Linked DNA regions of Homo sapiens. The protein of the gene in region 1 purifies or fractionates together with the protein of each later gene. This does not show direct contact. Each region holds a gene or a part of one and is shown on either strand. Other genes may lie near its edges.

Region 1 (3,655 bases):
GGTGGTATGGTCGTAGACTATCTCCTCCAATTAGAATGTAAGCTGTATAGAACAAAGTCTTTTGGTTTCGGTTGTTCGTGGATATATTGCCAGCACCCCGAACAGTGCCTCACATATAGTAGGTGCTTGGTGTTTGCTGAATGACTGGGTTAATCGGTAATGAATGATGGTCAGGTAGGTGGGAGCCAAGCCTACAAAAGATTTTAAAACCATCCTAACAGCAGTGGGAAGAATGGGAAGCTACTGGAGAATTTTAAGGACAGGGCTGATCAAATCAAATATGTGTTTCTGGAAGGTGACCGTCTGCAGAGTGGAAAATGAGTTGGAGGGAAGCAAGGTCAGAAACATAGAGACCAGTGGGCGACTGTTGAATAAATCCAGGCAAGAGATGATGCTGATCTAGGCTTAGATGGGGCTGTGAAGCATGTGAGAGACAGTCTATGAGGTAAAATTGAATATGATTTAGTAATTGATTGGGTGTTGAGGGTGAGGGCAGGGGATGAGGCAAGAGTACCTCCCAGGCTTAGCATTGGGTGGACGATGGTGCCGTTTACTGAGCTGTGGATGGTTAGCAGTGTAGACCTAGGAGGGAAAGAAAATTAGTTTAGTTGATAACGGGTGAGATTTGAGGTGCCTGTGAGTCATCCAAGAGCAGCTTACAGGAGACACCTGGAGTTAGGGTCTGGCACTAAGGAGAACCACCTACAAAGTACAAATTTGGGGGACCGTTGGAACGTGGAGACAAAATGTCTGTTCCCCCTTATTTAGTGTTTATCACACACTGCCTTTGTTGTTAATGACCTATTGATACGTAGCATTATAGCTCCCCACTTGGATTATTAGACCCCTTTCCAGATGCCCAGACATGTAGCCTTCCAAAAACAGAAGTTATTTAAATGGACTAACTTCATTTTTTTTTTTTTTTTTAAGACGGAGTCTCGCTCTGTCGCCCAGGCTGGAGTGCAGTGGCACGATCTTGGCTCACTGCAAGCTCCGCCTCCCGGGTTCACACCATTCTCCTGCCTCAGCCTCCCGAGTAGCTGGGACTACAGGCGCCCGCCACCACACCCGGCTAATTTTTTGTATTTTTAGTAGAGACGGGGTTTCACCGTGTTAGCCAGGATGGTCTCGGTCTCCTGACCTCGTGATCCGCCCGCCTTGGCCTCTCTAAGTGCTGGGATTACAGGCGTGAGCCACCGCGCCCGGCCTATTTATTTTTATTTATTTATTTATTTATTTTTTTGAGACAGAGTTTTGCTGTTGTTGCCCAGGCTGGAGTGCAGTGGCGCGATCTCGGCTCACCTCACCTCAACCTCCACCTCCCGGGTTCAAGCGATTCTCATGCCTCAGCCTTCCCAAGTAGCTGGGATTATAGGCATGCGCCACCAAGCCCGGCTAATTTTGTATTTTTAGTAGAGACGGGGCTTCTCCCTGTTAGTCAGGCTGGTCTCGAACTCCCAATCTCATGATCCACCCGCCTTGGTCTCCCAAAATGGTGGGATTACAGGCGTGAGCCACCACGCCCAGCCAACTTCATGTATTTAAATGGACTGGTGGATTGAAATCTGAACTCTACTGCCTGAATTTAAAGGCCCTCCAGTCTGGCTTCACCTTTCCCACGTACCTAGCATTATTTCTTGCTATTGCCTAGGAGACTCTTATATCCAAGCCTTATTTTCTCTGCGTCTGGAACACACTCCTTCTGCTCCCAAACTGCCCATCCAGCTCCTAACTGTCCTCACCACTCATCCTTTAAGTGCATATGTTGTCTCTACTACTCATTGTGGCATATAATCAAACCCGAATATGTGTAGAATAGTGGTGAAGAATGCAGTCTAGACCCAGACTACCTGTCTTGGGCAAATTACCCAACTTCTCAGTGCTTCAATGTCCTCATTTGAAACTGGGTATAGTAATAGTATCCACTTCTTGGGTTTATTCTTATTTATTTATTTATTTGCCATTGTTCCATAAGAAGGTTTATTTTATTTTTTTTAATTTTATATATATTTTTTGAGACGGAGTCTCGCTTTGTCACCAGGCTGGAGTGCAGTGGCGTGACCTTGGCTCACTGCAACCTCCACCTCCTGGGTTCAAGTGATTCTCCTGCCTCAGCCTTCCAAATAGCTGGGACTACAGGCGCCCACCACCACGCCCAGCTAATTTTTGTATTTTTAGTAGAGATGGGGTTTCACCATGTTGACCAGGGTGGTTTCGATCTCTTGACCTCGTGATCTGCCCGCCTCGGCCTCCCAAAGTGCTGGGATTACAGGCGTGAGCCACCGTGCCCGGCCACTTCTTGGGTTTATAAGGATTAAACAGTTAACATGGGTATAGTGTTTAGAAGTTCCTTCTACAGGCCGGGAACAGTGGCTCACGCCCTGTAATCCCAGCATTTTGGGAGGCCAAGGCGGGCGGATCACGAGGTCAAGAGATCGAGACCATTCTGGTCAACATGGTGAAACCCCAACTCTACTAAAAATACAAAAAATTAGCCGGGCTGGTGGCTTATGCCTGTAGTCCCAGCTGCTTGGGAGGCTGAGGCAGGAGAATGGCATGAACCCGGGAGGCGGAGCTTGCAGTGAGCTGAGATCCAGCCACTGCACTCCAGTGTGGGTGACAGAGCAAGACTCCATTTCAAAAAAAAAAAAAAAAGTTCCTTCTACATAACTGAGTATGGTATGTTAACTATTATTTATGGCCATTGCTTTTCTTATTGTTTCCTGTATATACATTTTGTTTCTCAAGCATGATTGCAAGCCCCTGGGGACAGGGAGCTAATGCATTTGTTTCACTGCACATACCTGCGTCTATCACAACCACATGTGAGGCCTGTACTACATAATGGCTAAAGTTAAACTGACGAAATCCCTCAGCTACCTTTTGCTGTGCTCATCCATTTAGTCTCCCCTCTTCTAGGTCCAAGAATGCCTCAGGATGGATCAGATGACGAGGACGAGGAGTGGCCCACCCTGGAGAAGGCTGCCACAATGACAGCAGCGGGCCATCATGCAGAGGTGGTTGTGGACCCTGAGGATGAGCGTGCCATAGAGATGTTCATGAACAAGAACCCTCCTGCCAGGTAGGCCTGGGGATTTGGGATAATGAGTCCTTGTAGAAAGTTCCCACAGGAAAACAAGTTCCCTGGCAGACTTATGATTCCCTACCTTTGGAAAGGGCCCTGGAGTTGCTAGCTGTAGGGGACCACCTTGACAAAACTGGCCCATCCTCAAAGGACCACTGTGAGTAGGAATGACCCAGCCTCAAAAAACATTGTGTCCTTATGTCCATTTGTTGTACAACTGCCCAGTTGCCAGGGAAACAGTTCCAGGCCCCTTTTACACCTCTGGGGAGAGCCATCCTATTGCATTTGGTTTTGGTATTCTTAGTTTTTTTAGCGGTAAGCTCAACTTCCTTGGACAAGTCTTCATATCCTAAGCTTCATTTAAGCCAAGGTTTTTCAACCTCAGCATTATTGACATTTTGGGCTGGGTAATTTTGTGTGTGTGTGGAGGCTGTCCTGTGCAGTGTAGGAGGTTTAGTAGATATCTCTGATCTCTACTTCTAGACTCCAGTAGCAACCTTCCCCCAGTTGTGAAAACCAAAAATGACATCAGACATTGCCAAATGTCCTCTGGGAGGCAAGACTGCCCCT
Region 2 (2,600 bases), on another chromosome or scaffold:
AAAGGTGGCCACTAGAGGTCTGTGTGCCATTGCCCAGGCAGAGTCTCTGCGTTACAAACTCCTAGGAGGGCTTGCTGTGCGGAGGTAAGTGTCCTGAGACCTAATGGTCATGACCTTTTGTGTGTATCAACATACATGTCTGCCATTTGTTAATTTAGCAGATGAACTGTTACAAAGTTACAGGATCTGCTAGTCTCCCAGGGTTATAATAAGATACTAAGTCATGCCCTCACTGAACTGGCAGGCTAACAAGACTACTAAAGCAGCAAGAACTGTAAAGGGTGGTCAGTCCTGTAATGGAGAAGTGTTCTGGGTGCTTTGGGAGTTAAACACAAATAGAACTGTCCAAGGAGGGGACCAACTCCTGTTGGTCTTCTTGAGAAGGCTTTACAAAGAGCCCTGTTGCGGGGGGCGGGGCAGTGGGCAATGAGGAATAATTAGGCCTGTTACTGGGTGTGTTACGTATCCCTAGGTAGAAGTGCCTTAGTACTAGTTAGGATACCATGAAACTTTAGTAGCAATCATTCAAATCTGCTTAGTGTGTTCACTCTTAAGATGGTATTGTGAAGAGATAAGATAGACCTGATGCAAAATAGCTTAAAATCTAGACACTTAACCTCTGAGTTGCATGCAGATAGTAGTAATGTGAGGGTCTACTGGTAAGATTTCAACAGGAAGTTCTTTGTGCAGTTTGACTGTATGTAAAGGCACTGAAATGCCTTGCCTAGAGGAATGACAGGAAAGCTGTGCTGTAGGAAGGTTGACTGGTAGGGATGGGTAGTGTAGGCAAGGCTCTAGGTAAGGACATAGAAAAGACGGCTTACCTGGTTTGAGTGCCAGCTAGGCTGCTTAGAACAATGGTTCTCAAGATTAATGCCAGCCCCAGACCCACCAAATGGGAAACTGGATGTGTGACTCAGCAATCTGTCTTAATAACCCCTCCACATGCTGTTTGCACACATTGAAGCAAGTTAATGAACCTCTCAGCCTGGGATCTGTTATCTTCTAAGGTGGACCATTATACCACCTCTCAGTTGTGGAATATTAAGTAAGATAATGTGAAAGGGCCTGGAGGTGGCTAGCTCTCCAGTTAGTATCTCGCAGAGCGTAAACTGCCGAATGAGTTGGGGGGTAGGTCATATTTTAAAGTGTTTTATCAGCGTTCTAATAGCAAGATAGCCAGGATCCTAGGTGGGTAAGCTTTCCTAGTGAATGAGACTTCGGAGGTTGCAGAGTATTTCAAGGGACCACAAAGTGGGTAATTGTGGAGTGTAAATGTGGTTCTCAGTTTTGGTTATACATGAGAATCACCCAGGGAGCATTTTTAAATAGATATTCCTGGACTTTGCACATTTAATTGGCCTAGAGTAGGGCCTAGATGTCAGGGTTTCTTTTGTTTTTTATTTTAGCCTTCTGAGGTGATTCCAGTATGCAGCCAGGGTTGGAAAGTACATATTTAGGAGCTTGACATACTTGATGAATATTACCCTAAGGTTCGGAATGATAGGTGTGGAAGAGAATTGGTATTCTTGGGGCCGGACTCTGGTCAAATTATTCTCCATTAAAGGAACATTGAAAACCAAGTCTTTGTTTTGTTTTTTAAACTTGGTGGAGGTCCTTGGCAATAACACAGTGGCTCTCTTCTGTTCTTTTAAAGGGCCTGCTATGGTGTGCTGCGGTTCATCATGGAGAGTGGGGCCAAAGGCTGCGAGGTTGTGGTGTCTGGGAAACTCCGAGGACAGAGGGCTAAATCCATGAAGTTTGTGGATGGCCTGATGATCCACAGCGGAGACCCTGTTAACTACTACGTTGACACTGCTGTGCGCCACGTGTTGCTCAGACAGGGTGAGCAGCTGAGAGTGCTTGGCAAAGGGCATTTGTGGACAGATTTGGTTTTCCACAGACATCTTAAGTATTTGGGGGAGTTTATCATGGAAGTAGCTGGGCATGTTCATATTCCTTGGTGTATCGATTGCCACGTTGATCTGTAAGAATCGATTTGCTGAGATCTGTCAGATCCAAGAGTTGGTTTGTCCTTGTTTTAGCCATCTGTGTACCCTTCAGTGATGACACGATGACGAGTCAGAAAGGTCACGTCCTGCTCTTGGTCCTTGTCAGTGCCATGTTCTGTGGTGCTGTGCACGAGTTCCTTTGGCAGAAGTGTCCTATTTATTGATCGATTTAGAGGCATTTGTCTGAGAAGGGTCCAGACCCAGGGGTGCTTGAGTAAACTGCTTGCTCTCTTTGGTCTTGTGTGATGGGGGCCTTTGAGACCCCAGCTGTGTGCTAACAACTGTGGTGTCCTCTAGGTGTGCTGGGCATCAAGGTGAAGATCATGCTGCCCTGGGACCCAACTGGTAAGATTGGCCCTAAGAAGCCCCTGCCTGACCACGTGAGCATTGTGGAACCCAAAGATGAGATACTGCCCACCACCCCCATCTCAGAACAGAAGGGTGGGAAGCCAGAGCCGCCTGCCATGCCCCAGCCAGTCCCCACAGCATAACAGGTATGTCTGCAAGGGCAGGGGCCTCTTGGGGCATAATAGGGTCCTTCCGAGTCTTTCTGTTAATACTTGTATCCCACATTCTGGTAAGCGTTTG
Region 3 (2,911 bases), on another chromosome or scaffold:
GGCTCCCAGAACGAAGGCCAGATCGGCAGGACACAGCCAGCGTGGGATGCTGACACTCACAGGAACCCCCGACTCACACCAACCCCCCACTGACACCAACACCCCCCACTCAAACCAACCTCCCATTCACACTAATCCTAACCCACCCCCCACACACACCACCCCCCCATTCACACCAACTCTCCCCTCACACCAACACCCCCACTCACAACCAAACTCCCCCCAGTCACACTGACCCCCCACTCACACCACCTCCCCTCACTCCCACACACACCATACCCGTCTACACCACCATACACCTCCCACCACAACTGACCCAGGCAGAGAGAACCCCCCCAACCCTGCTCCCTCCCAGGTGTCTGGAGTGTAACCTCAGCAGAGGCCCCGAGCTCTGCCAACAGGGAGGTCACTGGGGCCAGGGGATGAGGGAGGCTGGGTGACCGGTGACACTGGTGGGCCGGAGGCCCTGGGAAAGACCACGCCTCAGGTTCCCCACCATCCCCTCCCAGGCTGTGGAGTCGGCAGGGGCCTCGCTTTGCCATGTGCCTGGTGGGCTCAGGCAGATGTGAGGCCCTCGGCCTGGCAGAGGCATCCAGCCGCCCCAGTCCACACTCCCTGAGCCTTTCTCCTGCAAAAACATTTATTCACAGGTGGGCTGGGGTCAGCTGAGATTTATTCACAGGTGGGCCAGGGTCAGCTGAGCGTGAAGTGCTGGGCACAGAGTTCACCCGGCCGTCCCAGCAGGCCCTGGGCTGGGATAAACTCCAGTGGCACCGGCTCGGGCCCCTTCTTCTTCAGGTCCCGCTCAAAGATCTGCAAAGCACAAAGCACGGCGGCTCTCAGGCTTGGCTCAGCGCCCCGTGGCCCAGACCCTCGCACCCTGGCCCAGTTCCGCACCTCGTAGGCCGTGAGCTCCAGCAGTGGCGCGATGCTGACCTCAGGCATGGACAGGGCCTGGTTGATGACGCTGGCGGCTTTGGACACCTCAGGGTGGTAGTGGCGCTGGAGGGCCTGGGGCAGTAGGGCCGTTAAGAGGCAGCTGCCCCAGGCCCCCGCCCTGTGCCCCCAGCCATGGCCTCCCTGTGCTCCCAACCAGAGTGGGCGGGGTCGGGACGGAGCCACGTGAGAAGGCCAAGCACCCAGCACCCACAAACCCAGGTGGCCAGCTGGGGACGCAACATGAGGCTATGCGGGAGGTGGCACGGGGAGCTGGGCTTTCTGAGGGGCCGAAGGATGGCTCGGGAGGCCCCAGGGTGTGGCAGCAGCGCCCTCACCTGAAGCTCCCACAGGGAGCTCTCCAAGGCCCGGCTCTGGGCTGGGTCCTCCTCTCCAGGGTCGTAGGGGTCGGCGTCCAACTCTAGGAATGAGACGTGGGCCCTTGTCTGCCGTCCACAGCACCAGGCACCCCCGCCCCAGCTCCAGCCCAGCCTCCGAGGGCCCCGCAACTCACCAGGGCCGTGTGGACGGTGCACGAGGACCCGGCAGGCAGGGTGCCGGCGCAGCAGGTTACAGATGAAAGGCAGGACCATGAGCAGGGCCTCAGGGGGAGCCGTCAGGGCCAGGCGGGCCAGCCGCTTGGCGAAGGCGGCCACCAGGTAGGCGGGGAGGTGGCTGGGCAGGGCAGTGGTTGTGAGACAGGGCCCGGACTGCTAGCCCCCACCACCCTCCCCTGGCCCCAGGCTGCAGCCGCACAGAGCAGGGCAGAGCCAGGTGCCCTGGTACTCACGAGGAGGACAGGAAGAGGTCAGCCAGGTGGAAGAAGCGGGCGCGGTACTTGACGTGAAAGACAGAGGGGTCCAAGAGGCCGTAGAGCTTCCGGTAGAAGTCAGGGTACTCCCTGCGGGCCGGGGGGAAGGAGCAGCGGATGGAGCAGGGCCCGGGAACTGAGGCCTCCAAGGCCAGGGTCTCACTCGGCGCCCCTTCCTCCCGCCCAGGGACTCCAACACCATGGCCTGTGAGGAAAGCGGGGACCCCGTGGGGCAGGGTGGGAAGGGGACAGAGGAGCAGGGCTGGGCAGACTGGGAAGAAGACCTGCACCCCTGGTGACACTCACAGGTTGTGTTTGTGAATCAAGATGAACAGCCCGTTCAAGGCCAAGAGGCTGAGGGCCCCCCCTGCAGACAGACAGACACAGGCTGGAGCTGCAGTGACCTCGCTCCCACCCTACCCCCTGCCCACACTGAGTGTAAGTCTGTGGAGTGTGGCCTCTGCCCCTGCTGTCCCCTCCCACAGCCCCCACGGACACAAAGCTGGAGACCACATGCAGGGCAGGGGAGTGGGGGGTGGAGGCAGTGGGATCGGGGAAGAGGTGCTGCGGGGTGGGGGTTGGGGGTGTGAGCGAGGCGGCGGCACTCACCGAGGGGATTAGGGGTGTGGTGTGAGCGAGGCGGCGGCACTCACCGAGGGGATTAGGGGTGTGGTATGAGCGAGGCGGCGGCACTCACCGAGGGGATTAGGGGTGTGGTATGAGCGAGGCGGCGGCACTCACCGAGGGGATTAGGGGTGTGGTATGAGCGAGGCGGCGGCACTCACCGAGGGGATTAGGGGTGTGGTGTGAGCGAGGCGGCGGCACTCACCGAGGGGATTAGGGGTGTGGTGTGAGCGAGGCGGCGGCACTCACCGAGGGGATTAGGGGTGTGGTGTGAGCGAGGCGGCGGCACTCACCGAGGGGATTAGGGGTGTGGTGTGAGCGAGGCGGCGGCACTCACCGAGGGGATTAGGGGTGTGGTGTGAGCGAGGCGGCGGCACTCACCGAGGGGATTAGGGGTGTGGTGTGAGCGAGGCGGCGGCACTCACCGAGGGGATTAGGGGTGTGGTGTGAGCGAGGCGGCGGCACTCACCGAGGGGATTAGGGGTGTGGTGTGAGCGAGGCGGCGGCACTCACCGAGGGGATTAGGGGTGTGGTGTGAGC

The links.
Region 2: the proteins of BYSL (region 1) and RPS3 purify together in Homo sapiens (affinity purification with mass spectrometry; 6 studies listed by BioGRID and IntAct, with this or other methods). This does not show direct contact.
Region 3: the proteins of BYSL (region 1) and NOC4L purify together in Homo sapiens (affinity purification with mass spectrometry; 4 studies listed by BioGRID and IntAct, with this or other methods). This does not show direct contact.

The regions. Positions count from the first base shown.
Region 1 is NC_000006.12:41,924,455-41,928,109, forward strand, and holds part of BYSL (bystin), read left to right. Parts: intron 1-2,919; coding exon 2,920-3,082; intron 3,083-3,655. UniProt on the Homo sapiens protein: Required for processing of 20S pre-rRNA precursor and biogenesis of 40S ribosomal subunits. May be required for trophinin-dependent regulation of cell adhesion during implantation of human embryos.
Region 2 is NC_000011.10:75,402,363-75,404,962, forward strand, and holds part of RPS3 (small ribosomal subunit protein uS3), read left to right. Parts: coding exon 1-84; intron 85-1,657; coding exon 1,658-1,845; intron 1,846-2,058; exon of another isoform or gene 2,059-2,204; intron 2,205-2,309; coding exon 2,310-2,503; 3' UTR 2,504-2,506; intron 2,507-2,600. UniProt on the Homo sapiens protein: Component of the small ribosomal subunit. The ribosome is a large ribonucleoprotein complex responsible for the synthesis of proteins in the cell. Has endonuclease activity and plays a role in repair of damaged DNA.
Region 3 is NC_000012.12:132,150,184-132,153,094, reverse strand, and holds the end of NOC4L (nucleolar complex protein 4 homolog), read right to left. Parts: intron 2,115-2,911; coding exon 2,054-2,114; intron 1,838-2,053; coding exon 1,727-1,837; intron 1,612-1,726; coding exon 1,451-1,611; intron 1,358-1,450; coding exon 1,275-1,357; intron 1,012-1,274; coding exon 898-1,011; intron 814-897; coding exon 694-813; 3' UTR 627-693; downstream 1-626.